Homo sapiens: one gene and its partner. The protein of the gene in region 2 purifies or fractionates together with the protein of the main gene of each other region. This does not show direct contact. Each region holds a gene or a part of one and is shown on either strand. Other genes may lie near its edges. The genes, in order: PREP and MTG2.

What was found.
Region 1: the proteins of MTG2 (region 2) and PREP purify together in Homo sapiens (affinity purification with mass spectrometry; 2 studies listed by BioGRID and IntAct, with this or other methods). This does not show direct contact.

What each region holds. Positions count from the first base shown.
Region 1 is NC_000006.12:105,272,762-105,283,717, forward strand, and holds the end of PREP (prolyl endopeptidase), read right to left. Parts: intron 9,822-10,956; coding exon 9,690-9,821; intron 9,142-9,689; coding exon 8,985-9,141; exon of another isoform or gene 7,860-8,984; intron 6,318-7,859; exon of another isoform or gene 6,255-6,317; intron 5,678-6,254; coding exon 5,383-5,677; 3' UTR 457-5,382; downstream 1-456. UniProt on the Homo sapiens protein: Cleaves peptide bonds on the C-terminal side of prolyl residues within peptides that are up to approximately 30 amino acids long.
Region 2 is NC_000020.11:62,184,133-62,195,088, reverse strand, and holds part of MTG2 (mitochondrial ribosome-associated GTPase 2), read right to left. Parts: intron 6,556-10,956; exon of another isoform or gene 6,251-6,555; coding exon of another isoform or gene 6,208-6,250; intron 5,581-6,207; exon of another isoform or gene 1,753-5,580; coding exon of another isoform or gene 1,669-1,752; coding exon 1,465-1,668; coding exon of another isoform or gene 1,411-1,464; intron 213-1,410; exon of another isoform or gene 76-212; intron 1-75. UniProt on the Homo sapiens protein: Plays a role in the regulation of the mitochondrial ribosome assembly and of translational activity. Displays GTPase activity. Involved in the ribosome maturation process.

The DNA of each region.
Region 1 (10,956 bases), on a different chromosome or scaffold from region 2:
TGGCATTAATAACCTCCACAAATGGCCACCAAGTCATTTTCTCTTGCACAGTAAACAAGAGCTTCCTTAGTCACTTACTTGGCATTGAACGAACCCTCCTTGCCCGTGCCTCCCCCTGCCTGCTTCTCAGTGCTGCGGTCACGTGGCTGCAGGAGGCCCTGAGCTCCTGAGCAGAGCAAAGCCTGTAAGGTGGATGCAGGGCATATTCTCAGGACACCCTATCAGCCGGCCTGATATTTGATCTACAGGAGCAAACTCAGAGAGAGAGAGGGACAGTTTTGCCTGCAAATGTGAACCCTGACCTAAAGACGGCTGCTCAAAATAGCCCTCATCCTCTTTGCCTAAGCCTGATATGCAAGCTTTTATCTCAGTTGCCCCTGGTCACCTGCCTTTCTTACTTGACTCTGCAGTTCTCCAGGTGGCTATTCCTGGATGGCACTCATCCAGAAAGGGTCATTGCTCTTTTTTCTCTTTATTTCACTACCAGAGATTATTTCGATAACATTATGATTTACAAACCATAAAATTCATACATTTCAAGTGTACAATTCAATGACTTTTTAATACATTTACCAGGTTGTGCAACCGTTACTGAAATCCAGTTTTAGAACATTTTTGTCATCCCGGTTAGATCCTTTATGCCCAAGTAGTTAATTACCATCTTCACCACCAACTCCAGGTACCCACTAATCTACATTCTATCTTTATAGAACTGCCTTTTCAGGATATTTCACTTAATCAGACTATACCCAGTCATTTGTGTCTGGCTTCTTTCACTTATAATGTTTTTGAGATTCATCCATGATATGGCATGTCAGTGATTTTTGTGATGGTGGGTTCCTGCTGCCCCCACCCCCAAAATTCCTTAAAGGTGCTAAGCAACCTGCTCTTTGAATAACCACCCCGCTTTTCCCTAGGCTCTCCTGCTGTCAGTTTCCCACAGTGTTGTCGGCTTTCATCTCTCAGTGGCTTCACCTGACTGAGCTGCCTGCCATCTCTAGTGTATCCTCCAGGCCTCGCCTGGCTCCCTGTTCCCCCCACACTGGCTTCCTGCTCTTCCTCCAAAGGCCTGGCTGGTTCCTGCCTCAGGCTCTGCCCATTGCTGCTGTCCTCACCAACCCCCAAAACGTTGCCCATTGTTTGTCCCCTCATTCCGTTCGGGTCTTTGTCCGAATGTTGCTTCCTGAAAGAGGCACCCTGACCTCGACTCAAATAGCATTCCTTCTCACGGACTATTCATTTGCCCCACTTTGTTTCTTCACAGCTCTTTTTATTCCTGTTTCTTGTTAATTCCTGAAATTATACTTTGTTTATTATCTTGTTAATAGACTCGTGGGTATCTTAGTCTGTTTAAGCTGCTATAAGAAAATACCATAAACTGGTGGGTTGTCAACAACAGAAATTGCTCTCTCACAGTCCTAGAGTCTGGGACATCTAAGATCAAGGCACTGGCAGATTTGGTGTCTAATGAGGGTTGCTTCCTGGTTCATAGGTGACACCGTCTCCTGTGTCCTCACATGGTGGAAGGGATGGGGCGGGGGGGTCTCTCCTTGGGCTCTAATATAAAGGCACCAGTCCCATTCATGAGGATTCCGCTCTCATGACCCATCGCCTCCTGAAGGCCCTGCCTCCTAATTCCATCACTTTGGGATTTACGATTTCAACATATACATTTCGGGGAGGACATAAACACTCAGACAACAGCAGTAAGAGAGCTGTTTCGGCTGGGCATGGTGGCTCATGCCTGTAATCCCAGCATTTTGGGAGGCTGAGGTGGGTGGATCACCTGAGGTCAGGAGTTCAAGACCAGCCTGGCCAACATGGTGAAACCCCATCTCTACTAAAAATACAAAAAGATTAGCCGGGAATGATGGTATGCGCCTGTAATACCAGCTACTGGGAAGGCTGAGGCAGGAGAATCACGTGAACCCAAGAGGTGGAGGTTGCAGTAAGCTGAGATAGCGCCATTGCACTCCAGCCTGGGCCGTAACAGCAAAACTCCATCCCAAAAAAAGAGTGCAGTATCCAAGGCCCAGCTCCTGGGGTTACTGCCCTGCCTGCCCACCTCCTGGCTGGGGAACTTGGACCTTTGCCAAATGGGGAAAAGGTATTATGTGCTTCCTAAGGTTGTGTGAGGACAAACATTCATCCACACAGAGTGCTTGCAGCGGGTGGCACAGGGTAAACATGAGCAAGATAATTTACCATCTGTCTCCTCCCTGGAATATCAACTGGATGAGGGCAGGACATTTTCTCTCTGCACCTTCAGCCCCTGAGATATGGAGGATGAGAATGGCTCAATGTTCCTCCTTCAAGGGCCTCAGTCCTCATCCCACTGGCCTGACCACCCCAACAGTATGACCTTTGCCTCTTTACAGCAACCTCCACAGCTTTCCAGCCTGTCCTTAACCTGCCTTTGAGTCTTTGCAACTCCTTCTGGGCATTAGCTATGTGGCCTGCTGGGAACTTCCAGAGGCTGGTAAAACTGACAAACCTTGAGAGACTGGTGACAGGCTTCCTTAGTTGAAACTTATCCTTTTCAAACTTGTAGCACCATGTGTGTGTAGCTGCTTAAGCTTTAGTGGGAGTATTTAAGAAACATGATTAATTGGAAAGTTTTATAATATTCCAGGTAAGTCCATAGTGAACATAAATGTGACTTTATCTTGCTAAGGTAACAAATGCTCTGGTGTGCTTAGCAGGGCCTTGTGACAAAGCAGTGAGGCCACCTGTGCAACATGTACAACTTTTTCTTTTTCAAAACAGTCCTAAAAAAACTAAACATATAAGTCCTCTGTGATCGAGCAATTCCACTACTGGGTATGAATCCAAAAGAAAGGAAATCAGTATATCAAAAAGATATCTGCACTCCTGTGTCTACTGCAGCACTATCCACAACAGCCAAGATAGGGAATCAACCCACGTGCCCATCAGCAGATGAACAGATGAAGAAAATGTGGTACATATATACAATGGAATATGATTTAGCCATGAAAAAGACTGAGATCCTGTCATTTGCAGCAACATGGATGGAACTGAAGGTCAATATGGTAAGTGAAATAAGCCAGGCACAGGAAGACAAATATCCCATGTTCTCCACTCATGTGGGAGCTAAAAAAGCAGGCAGAGAAAGGGAGGATGAAGAGATTAATGCCTACAAATATACAGTTTGAAAGAAGACCTAGTGTTAGATCAGTAGGGTGTCTATAGTTTACAATAATCTACTGTGCATTTCAAAATAGCTAGAAGAGAGTAATCATAAGAAAGAGCCAAAGGGCAGAGCACAGGATACAGAAAAGTGGGATCAAATAGAGAAGAATCCCTTAGAGTTCTGGGTAGGAGCCCAATCTCAAGTCTTATTTCTAATGTTTAAAGCTCCCCCTACTCCCCAAAATACCTTTAGTTGGTGGGATTAGTTGTCCTGTGAAAATCTAGACACAAAAATTAGGTTGGAAAAGAGAACTCGTAACTGGAGGCCAATCATGCTAGGCATTAAAAACGTATTACTGTATTCCTCCTCCTCCTCATCAGTTGCTAAGTGACATTTGGGATTTGAACCCAGTCCTGATATCTGAAGCTCACACACTACACACTGTATTTTCTGCTGTAAAGCAGACCTCAGAAAGTATGGTTAGATTCTGTGCAACCTTGAAAATGCTCTGGACTCAGTGGGTCCAACTCAGCTATTTGTACTTCACACCACACAGCTAGTCTAGGAAAGAGGCTGCCTCTGGCTTGACCATGCAAATGTATTTTCTTTCTTTCCTGCCATGCTGGTCAGCAGTTACACCAAAGCTAGCTAGTATCAGTATCTGAGTAGATGGTGATGACGACAGAGTCTCAGCATGCAACACTAGCTACTGGCACACTTTGTTTCCAGAGGAGTTATGGTGAATCTTATACTCAATGACAACTGTATTATGTACCGTACTAAATAGTAACGGAAAACATGATTCCAGTAGAGAAAAACCAAGCCATATAGCTGTCTTTCAATATGCTTGGTATGCAGTGATATGCTTGATAGAAAATGGTATGTCTAATTTTTGACCATAACTTGAAACGTAGAGAATGAGAGAGTGCTCTTAAAAGCACATACATATACAACTTGGAAGATGGGACTTACTTGGAAAAGTACAAATTATTGGAATAATGAAGTAATCTTTTAAGCTATTTTATATAAGGTTAAGATACTATATAAAATAATAATTTTTATCATATCATCTGATAAAGCAAGACAAAGGAAAAAAAACTGTTTTAAGTTAGATCAGCATTTCCCAAACTGATACTCAAAGGAACATTGTTTCATGAAATGTTAAAATATATGCCTTGAAAAAAATTTTATGGATGAAAGTTTAAGGAATAGTATATCTTAAAAATCTTGGGGGTGGGCAAACCAAAACTTTTTTTTTTTTTTTTCCAGTAAGTAAGTATGACTATTTCTATTTCCAGGAGTGATCTATGCAGGAGAAACAGCTTGGGAAATGCTGAAATTTCTGACTGTAAGAAATGCTTGGATATATGTATCTGTTTGTTTGGATAATTTACTCATGTGATCTCTTGGAACCAAGGATCCTTGGATCCAAGGAACTCTGATTTCTAGGAATACTTTGTAAACAAATCAATATACAAATAGGTGAATAATCTGAATTTTCCAGCCCAGTGATTTTTGAAAGGAGGCATCCAAACCAAAAGAGCCCCAGATCAGATTTTTACCCAACTAAGTGGTCAGTGTTTGTTTATGACAGTGAACCCCCTCTGACAGCTTCATCACCTCTAACAAACAAACAAACAAGGGAGACAGAGTGGATGAACAACTTATTTTCAAAGCTAACAAACATTCTATGACTTAACTGCTTGAAAACTAACTTGTTGCAGAAAGGTGAAATGCTTTATTCTCACAGAAAACTCCACTTCTGGAGTTGCCCCTCAATATGAAGAAACCGGAAGTAAAAGCCTGTCATTCTTAAATAACATTTATTATTGTTGCAAAGAAGTCTTCTCCATGAGAACAGTTCTCACATTTATTTAAAGATATAGAGGTTATGGATATAGATAAGTATGCCCGACTATGATCCTTAATTCAGCAATCTAATATTCACAATGTGTTTGTTGCCATTTAGCTATTTATCCCAACATGCCCTTAAAAAAAACACCAAAAAACCACATGTGCCTAGACAGGGTGGAAAAAGAAACACCAAGGCCTTGCTAAAAAGGAGAAGCCTAAAAAAGATAAAATTCCCACGGCAGTTCTGTTCAACTGTAGCCTGTGAGTGCAGGAATAATGTTCCCGTGGGGAAGCATTATGCCCAGTGGTTTCTTGGTGTCAACGTGGGAAAGCCCTTGAGGTTTTCTGTCGCTGTCAGGAGGAAGCACGAAAACTGTTTATGGAATCCAGTCGACGTTCAGGCACCGCGCGATGAACGCAAACATGTCTGAGACTTCCTCTATCACTTTGGCTGTGGGCTTCCCCGCCCCGTGGCCCGCCTTGGTGTCCACGTGGATAAGCAGGGGGTTGCTTTGCTTCCTGCTGCGGCCCACGATGTACTGAAGGGTGGCAATGAACTTCAGGGAGTGAAGCGGGACCACGCGGTCATCATGGTCAGCAGTGAGGAGCAGCATGGACGGGTACTGGATGTCATCTGCTTCTGGTAACTTCACATTATGCAATGGAGAGTATCTGGAAGGCAAAAACACCTTTGTGAGGCTGGAGAGCAACAGTAGAGTTTTATGGCACAGGGACCTAGGTAGTTAATTAGCAGTGAGGACTGCAGTTAACTAGTACGTGAGTGACCACCATGGACTGTGCCTATGCGTTACCATTTAGGCCATGACTGGCAAGGGCTCCTGGAAACTGGGGAGCTGTGTCATTTATGTGGCTCCAACTTTGAAAGACTGTAGGAAGGAAGCTCACAGGTCTGTTGAAACAACCCAAATCACAGGCATGCTTACTGTCTCTTAAGGTGAGTAGTTTCATATTCTCTAGGCTTTTTTTTTACTGCTACAAAGTGGAGTAATAATTGTCATTATAACCACACTCAGTGGTTCAAAAAAAGTCCAAGCCTTTCTTTTGTTGAGAAACTTGAAATCCACAGTATAAAGGGGCTTGCTGCCCCTTTAATAACATCTATAAAGCCTTTATTCCAGGCTCAGTTTTGCAATCTTAGGAAAAGCACATGTCCTCTCTGGGCCTAGTTTCTTTGTAAACCGAGAAACCTGGATGGGCTGTTGAGCCTCCTGCTGGCTCTCAGTCCGGCAGAAAGCAACAGACTTTGCCAGAGGAGGAGGGCACCTTCCGAAGTACCAGGCAAGTTTCCTGGGTAAGTTAACAAAAAGGGTGTTAAGTATAAAAGTAATGTTGATTTTAACAGTGACTGATAATAGTTGAAATATCTGGATATTTTTTCTTTACATTCTCCTAATAGGGGTGTCATGTTTTTCAATGTATTTAATATTTATTAATGAATAAAATCACCTGTTTTAGTAGAGTTTTATTTTGAAGGGTAGGTAAATAGTGAAAACAGTAAAAATTCTGCTCAGTTAACCAACGTGAGGCCAAAACATTCTTGGGCTCAGTTTCCCACCAGATAAGATGGAGATCTGTTTTCTGATCTCATTTAAGAGTGTCTTTTGACCAGCCCCATTCTTCCAAATATGGGTTAGTTCTAAAAAGAAACAAGTTTGGAAAACCCTGCCTGTTAATAATAACAATCTCCCCCTTGGAGATTCACATGCAATATTTATACATTATCTGTAGGAAAAAATACATTAGGCTTTATTTATCGCCCAGCCATTCAAACTTGGAGCTCTAGCTCTTTTTTTGGGGAAACACCTTTTACTAATTCTGGATGGTGCTCCATGAGGCACAGCCCAGGGGGCGGGGAGGTGTGCTGGGCTTGAGGAGCTCCCTGTAGGACCCTTCCTAGCTAGTGTGGGCTGAGTTCCATGCTCATTTTACCAGCCGCAGGTGAAATGCAGCCCTGTGAGAGCAAGATTTGAAAACTGAAGAAGGAACATCATGGAGAAAAATATTTAGAACTTTCTTTGTTTTTAAATTAAGTTTGAAAGTATTAGGTGTCATCTAATATTCTTTTGCCTTCAATTAACTCAGTATTTTCAAATGAGTTTAAATAGGACTTGTTTCCTTACGTGCAAATTTTCTCTAAGTTAGATATTCCTTCTTCAAATATATAGCTTCTACCAATGTGTGTCAATGAGGCCTGCATGTACTGAAAAGTAATAACTTTCATAGTGAACTTTGTTTCCCCTTAGAGAATAGAGTTTAGTAAAGTATCCAGTTAAAAAAAATTCAGTCATTTTAAGTATATTTCAAACTGGAGAGGCTAGCCATAAAAAGCAAACAAAATGAAAGAGCAAACTTTAGAAACTTGGCCGTGTGCGGTGGTGCGCACCTGTCGTCCCAGCTACTCAGGTGGCTGAAGCATGAGAACTGAGAACTGCTTGTACCCAGGAGGCGATGTTGCAGTGAGCCGAGATGGCGCCATTCCACTCCAGCCTGGGTGACAGAGCAAGACTCTGTCTCAAAAAAACAAAACTTTAGAAACTAAAGTTATTTTCATCAAAATTTGTAGTTTACTAATAGGAGGAACAGGCTTCTTGTGCCAGTCTGAGAGCCAAACACTGGTGATTAAAAATAAAACTCTTACATATGGGGAATGAAGGGCCAAAAAGAAGTTTTAATGTCTGTTTACTCATTGTTATCAGCATAGTGGTTGCAGGATACAATGGAAGTTGTGTAAGATTTCAATAATGCAACTTGCAGTTTCAAACATATGTAGCTATATTGAGCATAAAAGAAGTTTAATTGTATTTGAATATATTCCTTTTTTTTTTTGAGACAGGGTCTTGGAATGCAGTGGTGTGATCTTGGCTCACTGTCCCCCCAGGCTCAAGCCATCCTTCCATTTCAGCCTCGCGAGTAGCTGGGACTACAAGCATGCATCACCATGCCCAGCTAATTATTTGTAGAGACAGTACAGTATTTCACCACATTGCCCATGAAGGACTGGTCTTGAACTCCTAAGCTCAAGTGATCTACCTTGGCCTCCCAAAGTGCTGGGATCACAGGTATGAGCCACCATACTCAACACCCCCTTCCCCTACTCTTGACCTGCCATTTCAGGAGCATATATTCTTTACTTAATTTAGAAAAGGAAATCCCATATATTTGATATAAAGTATAATAATACCTTTTGATTGTTACAGTAACAAATTACCACAAATTTTAGCAGCTTGAAACATCACAGACTTCTTATCTCACAGTTCTGTAAGCCAGCAGTCTGGGTTGGCTCAGCTGGGTTCTCTGCTCTGGGTCTTCCAAGGTCAAAGAAGGTCAAAGTCAAGGTGTTGGCTGGTTGGACTCTTACGGGGAAACTCTGGAAAAAACCTACTTGCAGTCTCGGGATGTTGGCAGAATTTAGTTTTGTGCGGCTGTGGGACTTAGGTCCTGTTTCCTTGATGGCTATTGGTTGGGGGTTGCTCTCAGGTTCTAGAGGTCCCCCTTCCTCCATTGTCAAAACCAGCAATGGCAGGCTGAATCCTTTACAAGCTTCCAATTTCTCTGACCTCCCTTTCTGCTGCATCCCTGACTCCAGCCAGAGAATGTGCTCAGCCTTTAAGGGTTTATGTGATTTGGGACCCCTCAAGAGATAATCCAAAGAGCAGCAGATGAATATCCTGCTCCCTGACAGCAAGCAGTATCTAGGTAAGTGTTTGAATAACCAGGGTAGGAATCTTGGGAGGCCATCTGTAGAATTCTGCCCTACCACATTTTTTGTAGTTTGTTGCTTTTGTTCAAGACCATATTAAATCAAGAAAGACAAGTAGGTAGTCCCATCTCCTCTCCAGCAGATTATATGCAAATGCAAGACCCTGACAGTGACAAAGCTCAAGCACTAATCCTGCTGTGACTGTGTTCAACTTTATATCAAACCACTAACAACATATATATGTCAATAAAACCTTACTTGACAAGCCATTCAAAGTGTTGTTTGCTGTCCGAGCACCCATAATCAGTGGTCCAAGCATGGCCGATGGTATATTTATGAAACTTCAGCATGTCCATTACTCCAACTTGGGCAATAACACAACCAAAGAGGTCAGGTCTCTGATTTGCACAAGCAGCTAAAAGCCCAACGTAGAAAGAAAAGGGAGGCAGTCTATCATTAAACATCTACATAAACAAGGCAAGGCAATACTTACTTACATGCTTCCAGAGCCCTGGTTGCATTTATCCAGAGCACAAGAGGAAACCATCAGAAATCACCTGCCCAATAGCCCCAAAGCTCCCCACCCACTCTGAGATCTGTCAGAGGGGGTGGGGATTCTCATCAGTAATGGAGCTTTACTCCCCAAAGTGAATCTTGAAAAGCTTGAGGACTTTCTGGAAACCCTGTATCCCCTCCTCCCATCCCCACTTGCTTTCACAGTGATGAGGGAGATTAAGGGACTTGTTCAAGATCTCAGGACCTGCCCAAGGCAAAATAAATAGGGTCTCTTCGTATGTCATTTATCAGATACCCAAATACAAATGGTACAAATGGGTTTTGCTCTCCTTATACCACTTTGTGGTCCTATCCACAAAGTTAAGTCAAGAGCTGCCTACAGATGGTGTATCTGAAAACCCCAAGAGGGCTAACTAGTAAGTGCAATGAATAAAATCCAGTACTCACCCACTAAGAGGCCTCCATTTGAACCTCCATTAATAGTCAGCCTCTTGGGAGATGTGTAACCTTCCTTGATCAGATACTCAGCAGCACACTGAAAGTCATCAAAGCAGTTTTGTTTGTTGGCCAAGATACCACCTACAGTGTGCCAAAGTGGAAGATAGTTAATTAACAAAACATAAAAATAAGTTTAATCTAATGGGAATTCAAATGATAGAGCACGGTTTCAAATACTGATTAACTTAAAAACCATGGGTTAACACTGCATTTAAAAAAAAGCCTCAATTTAAGTTCTGTTATGCACTGTGGAAATATATCATCAATACCACAATGCTAATCCATATGGTGGATCTGTATTTTTCTAAAAGCCTCTAGAACTTAAACGGGAAATGCCCCAAAGGGAACAGATGGTCGGTTATGAGAGATGTATGATAATGAAAGGATAGAAGCATGGCATCACAAGGAACCTGTATTTTGGGAAGCTGAACTTACAAATATAAAGCAAGACCTGCAGCAGTGTTTAGTCCTCTAGGTTGCACCCAGCACCCGAGCCGGAGCTGGCTGTGGGAGTGCTCGTGTCTCCCCTCCCCGCGAAGACGGAGGTGGAAGCGCTCTGCAGAGGCACGCTTCCCACCCCACCTCTGCAGGAGTCTGACATGGTCGGTGATGGGGAGAAAGAAATTCCCCAGTCTTGCCCTCGGTTATTAATGGAAAGAACAAAAGGAATTGGGTGGTGAGGTAGCGTTGCGGCAGAGCATCACATTATGTTTTCTCAATTCCAGAATGAAAGATCTTCAACGTTTCCCCAGAGAATCTGGGCTTTATCATCTGCAAATCGTTCCAGTGTATTAAACCAAACAAATTACTTGGAGAAACATTTACAGGGCCATGAAATATCTATAAGTAAAGGCCAAAAGTCAAAAGCATGTCCTCAAAGGAACAGATGTCTGAAATAACGGCCTTTGAAATGAACAAAGAGCAGACACAGATCTAATTAGATACTTGAGATTAACCACTTCTGCTGAAATTTAATTAAAGATAAAGCAGTCCTACTGAAATGTTTTTCATATCAAAACAAATGTTATTAAGATTTCAGTAAGAAATTACCAGTGAATTTAGAACAGCTAGGATTACTTAGTTACTAGGAATAACAATATTTTGGGTATATGACTACATTTTAAAAAGAGCATTAAATTTTAAAGTCAATTAACAGAATGGAATTTAGATTTACCAGTGTATCATATCCTAGGCTATAACTGGAAAAGGTCTATTT
Region 2 (10,956 bases):
AAGTAGCTGGGACTACAGGCACCCGCCACTGCGCCCGGCTAGTTTTTTGTATTTTTAGTAGAGACGGGGTTTCACCGTGTTGGCCAGGATGGTCTCGATCTCCTGACCTCGTGATCCACCCGCCTCGGCCTCCCAAAGTGCTGGGACTACAGGCGTGAGCCACTGTGCCCGGCTAGGAAAGCTGTTCTGTAGGTCACTAAGGTAGGTGCAATCTGGATGAAGAGAGAGAACCAACCAGGTTACTGTTCAACACACAACAGCTCCTACCACAGGAGGGTCAGCTCCCGCAGCCCAGGGTGCTGCAACCTCACCACACGCTGGGGAGGACACCTGGCTTCTGCCCACGTGCACAGACAGACGTGCCCTGCCCCTGACAGCCACCCAGGGCTGCTGCCTCTGCACTCCGATCCAATACTCCTCAAATGCAGTTTTTTTTTCTTTTAAAAGAAAATTTTAAAACATTTAAAATTTTTAAACACAAAAATTTAAACACAAAAAAAAATTTAAAAATTTAAAACACAAACATTCTAAGATTCTTTGGCACCACCATGTGGGAAAACCACGAACTGTTATTTCCAAATTTCAATGTGTAATGCTGTCATGCGCCAACGCAAGCAAAATCCACCAGACAGGGAGGAAAGCCCCACTGGTGAGCACTTCGTGGAGGACAAAACCTCGACTCACTTTCTCTCCTGGGGAGGAGACAAGCCTGTGCTAACGCTTCAGCTATTTGAGCACACATCCCACCAAAGCGGCTTTTCCACTGGAAGTGCTGTTTGTCCCAGTAATGCTTATCTGGAGCCCCTCCATTCAGCAGGAAACGAAGGGAGTCATAAACGTGCATTTTCTTGAATTTATTAGAGACAATTCATGCTTTAAATAGGAGGTTTTGGTAAATAGAACAAGAAAAACTTATAAGGCTTAAAGAACCATAAAACGGAAGGTATATTCCCCCCTACTTGTTTTATTTTTATTTATTTATTAATTTAAAAAGGTTTTTTTTTTTTTTTTAGTAGAGACAGGGTTTCACCATGTTGGCCAGGCTGGTCTCGAACTCCTGACCTCAAGTGATCCGCCTGCCTTAGCCTCCCAAAGTGTTGGGATAACAGGCATGAGCCACCGTGCCCAGCCTCCGCATTTGTTTTAAATTAAGAAATAGCCACACATATGAAAGGATATATGTAACATACATGTAAAATACACAGGCTCATGGGAAAATGAGCAGCCTGTATCACGGCTTTCCAAGCACGCAGCGCCTCTCCCAGCCTGCTGGGATTTGCTGAGCGTGGGATTTAGCACGCAGGCCTGCGTTTCACCCTGTCATTTTCAAGAAGCTCCACGTGCCCCATCACTAAGATCATCAACTAACATCAACAGAGATGAGACCCAGAGGAGGACCCGAAACCACACCCTGTGCCTTCTGAGGAGGAGACAGGCAAGCTGCTCTAACTCCAGGAGTCTCACCAGCTTTTTCTCAGAGAGCAGCTTCTTCCCCGGGAGTTCCTGATGCTTGGCGAGGTCCGCACGGCCGACCGAGAGCAGCCTGGGAGAAGCCCGCTGTGGCAGTAGCCGGCTGGGCTTCAGGCCAGCCCATGTGGACAAAGCCCAATGCCCCACGCCCTGAAACACGGTCCTCAATCTTGCTGAGAAACACCTTGCAGGTGCCATGGCCCCTACAGAAGTCAAATTGGCAAAATGAGATACTTGGTTTAATGCTGGGCATGAAACAGAAACTGAAGACGAGGGCCTCATGCAGCAGGTCTTTGTGCACGTTTCTGAAACAAACAAGTGAACTGATGAATCCGATTTTCCTGGTCACTCACCCTCTCGGCCCTGGGTCACGTCTTGCCCTCTGACCCGTCAGCCTATCTGTGACTTGGGAGCAGGATTTCTGTACAAAGGATTTAAAACATGAAATCTTCCACAACACTGGACACATCCTCTTATGGAATAGCAAGGTTCCGCTCAACGAAAATATTAAAAAGGAAATCTGAAGTGCAAGTCAAAATTTCTTGAAAAGAAAAACACCCATTTATTAAAATGTTATCAAGAGTGTTATCCTGTGTAATTTTAAAGTTGTTACATTGGAACACAAGAATATTAAACATGGGGCATAGCGGCTAAGCACCCAGGCTCTGGAAAGTAACTCTAAGGGAAGGCCATCCACCTGTGTGGCCTCGGCCTCCTCACACGGCTGGGTGAGGACGGGCTGAGCTGATCCACACGGCTGCACAACCGCGGCCCTGGCTGTGGCACCGATAGAATGAGAAGAACACACTTGGCCCCTGCTCCTGGCTCCTGACACAGAGCTCTCAGAACGCTGGTAATTTCCTGAGTGACAGGGGCGATAGGGGTGCCTGACACAGAGCTCCTAAATCCCTTGGACTTCCCAGGTGACAGGAGAGTCTTCTGTTCTAATGAGGCACCTCTTGGTGGGCTCCTGGATGGCCTTGGGAGGGGGCTGGTCATCATAAAGACCAAGCCACGATGAGAAGCCTGGACCTTTCGGCCCCACCCCCACCCTCCAAAAAGGGCAGAGGGGCTGGAGGCTGAGTTCATAACTGATCATGTCTCCATGATGAGGCCTCCATGGAAATCCTGGAACTAGGGGCTCTGGAAAGCTTTCAGTTTGGTGAACTCATCCCCGTGCTGTAAGGCCAGCCACACAACTCCCTGGGGACAAAGGCTCCTATGCTTAGGACCCTCTGGGCCTCGCCCGTGCCCCTCCTCACCCAGCTGCCTGCCTGTGCCCGCTGTGGCATCCTTTATAGTAAACTGGCAATGCAAACCAAGTGCCTTCCTGAGTTCTGTGAGCCACTACCGCAAATCATCAAACCTGAAGGGGTCGTAGGAACTCCCAATGTGTAGCCAAGATGGACAGAAGTGTGGGTACCCCAGGGACCCACTACTTGCAATTAGCATCTGAAGTGGGGGGTGACTGAGCCCCTAACGCTGGGGTCCCTGATAACCGCGGCAGGGTCAGACTGAACTGAATTACAGGATGCCTGGCTGGTGTCTGCAGAGGACTGGCGAATTGTTGGTGTGGAAAACCCACACATTTGGTGCCTGATGTGTAGTGTGGGTGGAAATATCCCCGGAGCGACAGGGTTGGCACAGCTGCAGACTCTAAGTGCCAGCTACTGTCACTCTCAAAGCCTCATTTAAGCTGTCACTCATTCAACAAGCCGCTCATGACAGCCGGCTACCTTGCAGGTGCCAAGGGCACAGTGAGGAAGTCCTGACCCTGCCCTCCAGGAGAGGACAGCCCCTCTCCCTTCACCATGAGCACAAATACCTGCCTGCTCCCAGAGCTCCCCAGTCTTCAGCAGGTCGCACAGGAGGGACCTTACAAGGTGCTCCCCATCCTGACTACAAAAGATGTGTACAGAAGGGGCCCCAGTGGACGGCTGAAAACTCAACACGGGGCCAGAGCGGGAGCACAACGAGGGGACACCGCCTGCCTCCTCCCTCGCAGTGCCTCGGACGCCTCCCTCTCCCCAGCCTCACTCCTCTGAAAAGGTGCCACCTCCTTTGGGGGGGTCACTATCTCTGTGGGGTCCTTGGCCATTCTGCTTTAATTCTGAGGCAATCACAGTTACAGAAAAGCTGGAAGAAGAGTACAAAGAACTTCCTCCTGAATCACTTAAGAGTCAGTCGCCGACTGGACTTCCCTGCACCCAGAACAGTCCATGTGTGTTTCCTAGAGAAAATGGTGTCCCCTCCAGAACCAGGGTGTCATTGAGACTGGCCATGACCGACAGCCCCTCCCACGTGGGCCCCGGTCTCAGCAGTGCCTCTCCCTGTAGGAAAGTCTGCGTCCCTATCCCGGCTGCCTGCAGCTGCCACACCTTGTCCAGCTCCTTGGGCTGGAAGGTTCCTCAGCCTCTCCTGACTCCCGAGCCAGCCCTGACACGTGGGAGGCAGCAGGCCAGCTGTGCACAGGACGTCCTCATTCCCAATTCAGCACTCTGGGGTCATTCTAATTTTCTCTTGTGGTCTTGGTAACTCCATTCTCCGCCTATAAGAAACCGGGCCTCCATGCACTTTAAGATATTTATGGAGCTGCTCAACCCCTACCTGCTGTGACCCGCCCTCAGCTCCACCTCCCCGCCTGCTCCCAGAGCTCCCCATTCTTTAGCGGGTCTCTGTTCTCCGACTGGCTGAGTTCCCGTGCCGGGCCACCTCTCCATGGGACACCCTCCCCTTGATACCCTTCCTGTAAATATATTTTACAGGACAGCTGATTTTGAGATGGTTTTAGATTTGTGGACAAGGTGCAAAGGCATCCCTGCGGACTTCCTCCCCAGTGCCCCCGCAGCCGTGCCTGTGCGGCCGCCGCCGCTGCACCGCTACTAACTGAGCTCCAGGTGGGGCTTGGGGCTCAGCAGTTTCCCAAGAGCGTCCTTCTTCTGGTCCAGGATCTAGGCCAGGATCCACCCTGCTTTTAACCATTATGTAGGGATATTTTTAAGTGTTGTCAGAAAAGAGGCACCGAGGTATTCTATACGCAGGGAAAATATCTTTCAGAAACGAAGGTGCAATAAAGATTCTAGATGGCAGAAAACGAACATAGTTTGTCACTAATACAGCTGCTGTATAAGGAATGCTCAAGAAAGTTCCTCGGGTTGAAGGAAAATGATACCAGAGGGAAGCCTGGATCTTGAGGAGGGAAGGGAGAGCAACAGAATTGGTAAATATAAAATACTATTGTTTTCCTCTTAGGAGTTCTTAAATATGTAAGACTGTAGACAAAAAAATACTGCGTAGTTGGCTTCCAACGCGCACAGAAGTAATCCACATGAAAGGCAACAGAAAGGTCAGGAGGGGATTCGAGGGACCCAGATGACTGCAAGGTCCCCACGTTTCTGTGAGGGGCACAGTATGAACTCTGAGCAGACAGTGAAGGCTAACAGGTGTGCAGACTGGAACCTCCAGAGCAATGACTAAGACACAACACAAAGACACAGATCCGAAAAGCCAACAGATAAATGAAATGCTCAGAACTAGCCCAACAATTCCAAAGAAAAAGAACAAACAAACAAAAAACAGAGGGGACAAATAGGAAACAAATAATAAAAGTGCACCTAAATCTAACCATATAAATAATTTCATTAAATGTTAATGTTGGCTGGGCGCGGTGGCTCATGCCTGTAATCCCAGCACTTTGGGAGGCTGAAGCGGGCGGACCACGAGGTCAGGAGTTTGAGACCAGCCTGACCAACGTGGTGAAACCCCGTCTCTACTAAAAATACAAAAATTAGCTGGGCATGGTGGCGTGTGCCTGTAATCCCAGCTACTCAGGAGGCTGAGGCAGGAGAATTGCTTGAACGGGGAGGCGGAGGTTGCAGTGAGCCGAGATTGCATCATTGCACTCCAGCCTGGAAGACAGAGCGAGACTCCATCTCAAAAAAAAAAAAAAAAAAAGTTAATGTTTACAAATTCTAATTAAAAGGCAGAGGTTGACAAAGTGGATTAAAAAGAGCTAGCTGGGCACAGCAGTTCCTGGCTGTAATCCCAGCACTGTAGGAGGCCAAGGCGGGAAGATCTCTTGAAGCCATGAGTTCGAGACCAGCCTCGGCAAAATAGCAAGACTCCTGTCTCTACCAAAGGAATTAGCTGGGCATGGTGGCGCACCCCTATAGTCCCAGCTACTTTGGAGGCTGAGGTGGGAGAATCACTTGAGCCCATGAATTCAAAGCTGCTATGAGCTATGAATATGCCACCGCACTCCAGCCTGAGCAATAGAATGAGAGAAAGAGACACTTTTTTTTCTTTTTTTTTTTTGAGACAGAGTCTCACTCTGTCACCCAAGCTGGAGCACAGTGACATAATCACAGCTCATTACAGCCTTGACTTCCTGTACTTAAGAGATCCTCCTGCCTCAGCCTCCTGAGTAGCTGGGGCTACAGGTAAGTGCCACTGTGCCTAATTTTTAAATTTTTTTTGCAGAGACAGGGTCTCCCAGTTACCCAGGCTGGTCTCAAGCGATCCTTCTGTCTTGGCCTCCCAAAGTGCTGAGATTACAAGCATGAGCCACCACACCTGGCCTGAGACCCTGTCTAAAAATAGAAAAATAAAAACAGTAAAGACATAAAATCTGAACAATACTATCAAAACATTTATCTAGTTGACATTTACATAACAGTACATCCAACAACTGTACAATATACACTGTTTTCAGGTACAGGTGGAAGTCATCAAACAGACCATAAGATGTGTCATAAGTCTCAATACATTGAGAAGAAATCATAGTCAGTCCTCCGTATCTGTGGGGTCAACAAACCTCACGTCAAAAATATCTGGAAAACAAACAAAAAAACCAGTAACAATACAACAATTTTTTTAATTTAAAAAATAAAGTATAACAGCTATTTACATAGCATTTACATTGTATTGTACTATAAATAATCTAGAGATTACTTGAAGTATACAGAAAGGCCCGGTACAGTGGCTCACACCTGTAATCCCAGCAGTTTGAGAGGCCAAGGCAGGAGAAAAACTTGAGGCCAGGAATTTGAGAACAGCCTGGGCAAAATAGCGAGACCTTGTGTCTACCAAAAAAAAAAAAAAAAAAAAAAAATTAGCTGATTAGCTGGACATGGTGGTGCATGCCTATAATACCAGCTACTTAGGAGGCTAAGGTGGGAGGATCACTTAAGCCCAGGAGTTGGAGGCTGCAGTGAACCATGATCACACACTGCACTCCAGCCTGTGTGACAGAGCTTCTGTGGTGGGGCTGGGGGGAAGTATATGAATACCAACCACAGGGTCTATTCTCGGAATTAAATTGGAAGTCAATAGCTAGAAAATATCTAGGAAAATCCCAAATACCTGCAAATCAAACAAGCTTCTTCTAAATAATCCATAGGCCAAAGAAGAAATCAAAAGAGAAATTACAAAATGTTTTGAACTGAATTATAATGGAAATGCAAAATACCAGAATTTTTTTTTTTTTTTTTTGAGACAGTCTCGCACTGTCGCCCAGGCTGGAGTGCAGTGGTGTGATCTCGGCCCACTGAAAGTTCTGCCTCCCGGGTTCACGCCATTCTCCTGCCTCAGCCTCCCGAGTAGCTGGGACTACAGGCGCCCGCCACCATGAAATACCAGAATTTAAGAGATGCAGCTAGAGTAGTGTTTAGAAGGAAACTTACAGCTCTAATGGCTACCTTGGTAAAGAAGAAAGATCTAAAATCAGTAACCTAAGGCTCCAAATCAAGAAACCAGAAAGAGCAAAGTAAGCGTCGAGTAGAAGGAGGAGAATAATACAGAGCAGAAATAAAGAGACAACAATAACATGTAACAGAAAAAAACAGGTTCACTGAAAAGACAAGCTAACTAACACACTTCTAGCCTGATCAGGAAAACGAGAGAGCGCAAACCTCCACTGTCAGGAATGTTCAACGGGTTATCAGGACACACCTTACAGACAGCCAGAGGGCAAGAGAATGCTGGGAACGACTTCATGCCAGCAAATTCAGTAACAAATTCAACTTACATGAAATGGACAAATTTCTTGAAAAAGGCAACTTATTAAAGAAACACAAGAATAAACAATCTAGAATAGCCCTGTATCTACTCAATAAGTTAAATTTCTTATAAAAGAACACTCCCCAAAGGAAAACTCTAGCTCGGCTTGTTTTCCTGGTAAATTCCATGTAACATTCCAGGAAGAAACAGTGCCAATCTTACACAAGCTTTTTCAGAAAATAGAGGAAGTGAGATCACTATCCAACTCATCCTATGAGGCTAGTACCAAAATCTGACACTAAGAAAAAATAAAATTATAGACCATACCCCTCATGAATATAGATGCAAATAACTCTTAACAAAATATTACCCAATTGAATCCAGCAGTTCAGAAAGGATCACACATCAAGACCTAGTAGGGGTAATCTCAGAACACAAGGCCACATCAAGCAGTCAAAACTCAGCCCAGGCACTTCACTATATCAACAGGTGGTACCACCGTCTCAACACCCACTCATGAGGAGGAAAACAAAACATCTCAGCAAACTGGGAACAGACGGGAACATCTTCGCCCTGATAAGGGCACTACGTAGGGCCGGCCGACAGCTAATCACATTTAATGAAGAAATACTGAATGGTTACCTCCCAAGATGGAGAAAAAGGGCCTCCACACATACCACTGCTATGCAACAATGTCCTTTCACACACTGAAATAAAGGGGGAAAAAAGGAAGAAGTAAAACTGTCCCTGTTTACAGAAGAGAGGACAGAGTTCCACAGAGAATCCCAGGGAAGGCTGGGCACGGTGGCTCATGCCTGTAATCCCAGCACTTTGGGAGGCCGAGGTGGGCGGATCATTTGAGATCAGGAGTTCAAGACCAGCGTGGCCAACATGGTGAAACCCCATCTCTACTAAAAATATAAAAATTAGCCAGGCGTGGTGGCACGTGCCTGTAGTCCCGGCTACTCGGGAGGCTGAGGCAGGAGAATCGCTTGAACCTGGGAGGCAGACGCTGCCGTGAGCCGAGATCACGTTACCGCACTCCAGCCTGGGTGACAGAGCAAGACTCCATCTCAAAAAAAAAAAAAAAAAACAAAAAAAAAAGTCCCAGGGAAGGGAACTGAGCAAGATGGCATGTTATCAGGCTAATATAAAAAAATCAGTTGTATTCTTAAATACCAGCCGCAAACAACTGTAAATTAAAATTAAGAAAAAACCCCATTTATGGTAGTGCCAAATACAAAAAGTACCTGAAAATAATTTCACAGTAAACCTTCAAGACCTCTACCTCACTACTTGCAAAATACTGTTCTAAGTATTTTTCAGGGATTAACTCATTCAGTCCTCATAAAACTCTGTGAAGTAAGTCCTTCATCATCCTCATTTTAAAGTTGCGGAAACTGGGCAGACAGGTGAAGAGACTTAACCCAGAGCTATCAGATGGGAAGGCTCAGGGGTGGTGCATAAAAACAGGTTGGGGAAAAACAACTCGGGCTCATCAACACAAGCATAGCCACGGCTCAGCCTGCTGGAACGTTACACCATCCAGCCCGGATATTCTGGAAACCAGGCTTCCTGATGCAGGTGACATGGAACCTGCAGATCAACCGCAGAGAAGGTTGCAAAGCCAACCAGAGACCTGAACTCGGAGTCTTGCCTAATTTGCTTCCTCCTTTTTGCCCTTTCAATTTCTCTTTGGAGGCCCGCTGAGTGCTGTGCTCTCTCCCCTGCCGGATGAACAAATCCCACTGTTTTCACGCTGCTCTTTGGTGTCTTTATTTTCCTTCCAACAAGGCTGTCCTTGACCTGTCCAGCACAGTCCCCACTGGCCAAATGTGGCCATTTGGCTAAAATTAACTGAAATGTAAAAACTCAGTCCCTGAGGTAACATCTAAGTGCACACAGCCACATGTCACGAGTGGGTACATATGGGACAGCACATATTAGAACACTGCCCTCATCACAGAAAGGTTTTTTTTTGAGACAAGAGTCTCACTCTGTCTCACTCCCAGGCTGGAGTGCAATAGCATGATCTCACCTCACTGCAACCTTCGCCTCCTGGGTTCAAGCAATTCTTGTGCTTCAGCGTTCCAAGAAGCTGGGATTACAGGCACCCATCACCACGCTCAGCTAATTTGTGTACATACATATACATGTATATATATGTATGTGTATATATTTTATTTTTTATTTTTTATTTTTATTTTTTTTGGAGACAGTCTCGCTCTGTCGCCCAGGCTGGAGTGCAGTGGCATGATCTCAGCTCACTGCAACCTCTGCCTCCCGGGTTCAAGGGATTCTCCTGCCTCAACCTCCCGAGTAGCTGGGATTACAGCTGCATGCCACCACGCCCAGCTAATTTTTGTATTTTTAGTAGAGACAGGGTTTCACCATGTTGGCCAGGCTGGTCTTGAACTCCTGATCTCGTGATCCGCCCACCTCAGCCTCCCAAATTGCTGGGATTACAAGCATCAGCCACCACGCCCTGGCCATTTTTTTTCTTTTTTATTTGAGGCAGAGTTTCACTCTTGTAGCCCAGGTTGGAGAGCAATGGTGGGATCTTGGCTCACTGTAACCTCCGCCTCATGGGTTCAAGTGATCCACTCGCCTCAGCCTCCCGAGTACCTGGGATTACATGCACCCACCACCACACCCAGCTCATTTTTGTATTTTTAATAGAGACGGGGTTTCACCGTGTTGGCCAGGCTGGTCTTGAACTCCCGACTTCAGGAAATCCACCTGCCTCGGCCCCCCAAAGTGCTGGGATTACAGGCGCGAGCCACCACACCCAACCAATATATCCACTTTTAAATGTATTCCTAACGATAATACCCTGCGAGGGGTAATACTGCATGCCGAGCTATCTTCCATTTGCTTTTCCAGACCAGCTTTCCACCCTGCCCTGTGCTGTGTGTCAGGAGCCTGAGCTTGCCCCATAGGAAAACCTACTGGGACCTGGCCCTCTACCAGAGACTGGAGGCAGGAGCAGGAGGCCGGGACATGGACCTCCCTGCCCACTCAGACTGAGGCTCACACCTCCAGTCCAAGAAGCCCTCCCCAGTGACTCTTCTCCCTGTCCCGATCACTGCTGCCTTCCCTGATCCTTTGGAGTCCAGGAGTAGAAACTCCACTGCCACCAGTTCCAGGCTAAAGGACCAACTGTCATTAACCTGCACTCTGCCTTTGCAAACGGTCCCTTTATAAACCCTCCTCAAATCCTCCTGTGAGCATGAAACCTGATTTTTTTTTTTTGGGTATGTTTTTGAGACAGAGTCTCGCTCTGTTGCCTAGGCTGGAGCAGAGTGGTGCGGTCTCGGCTCACTGCAACCTCCACCTCCCAGGTTCAAGCGATTCTCCTGCCTCAGCCTCCCCAGTAGCTGGGATTACAGGCGCCTGCCACCACGCCCGGCTACTTTTTTGTATTTTTAGTAGAGATGGGGTTTCACCATGTTGGCCAGGCTGGTCTTTAACTCCTGACCTCGTGATCTG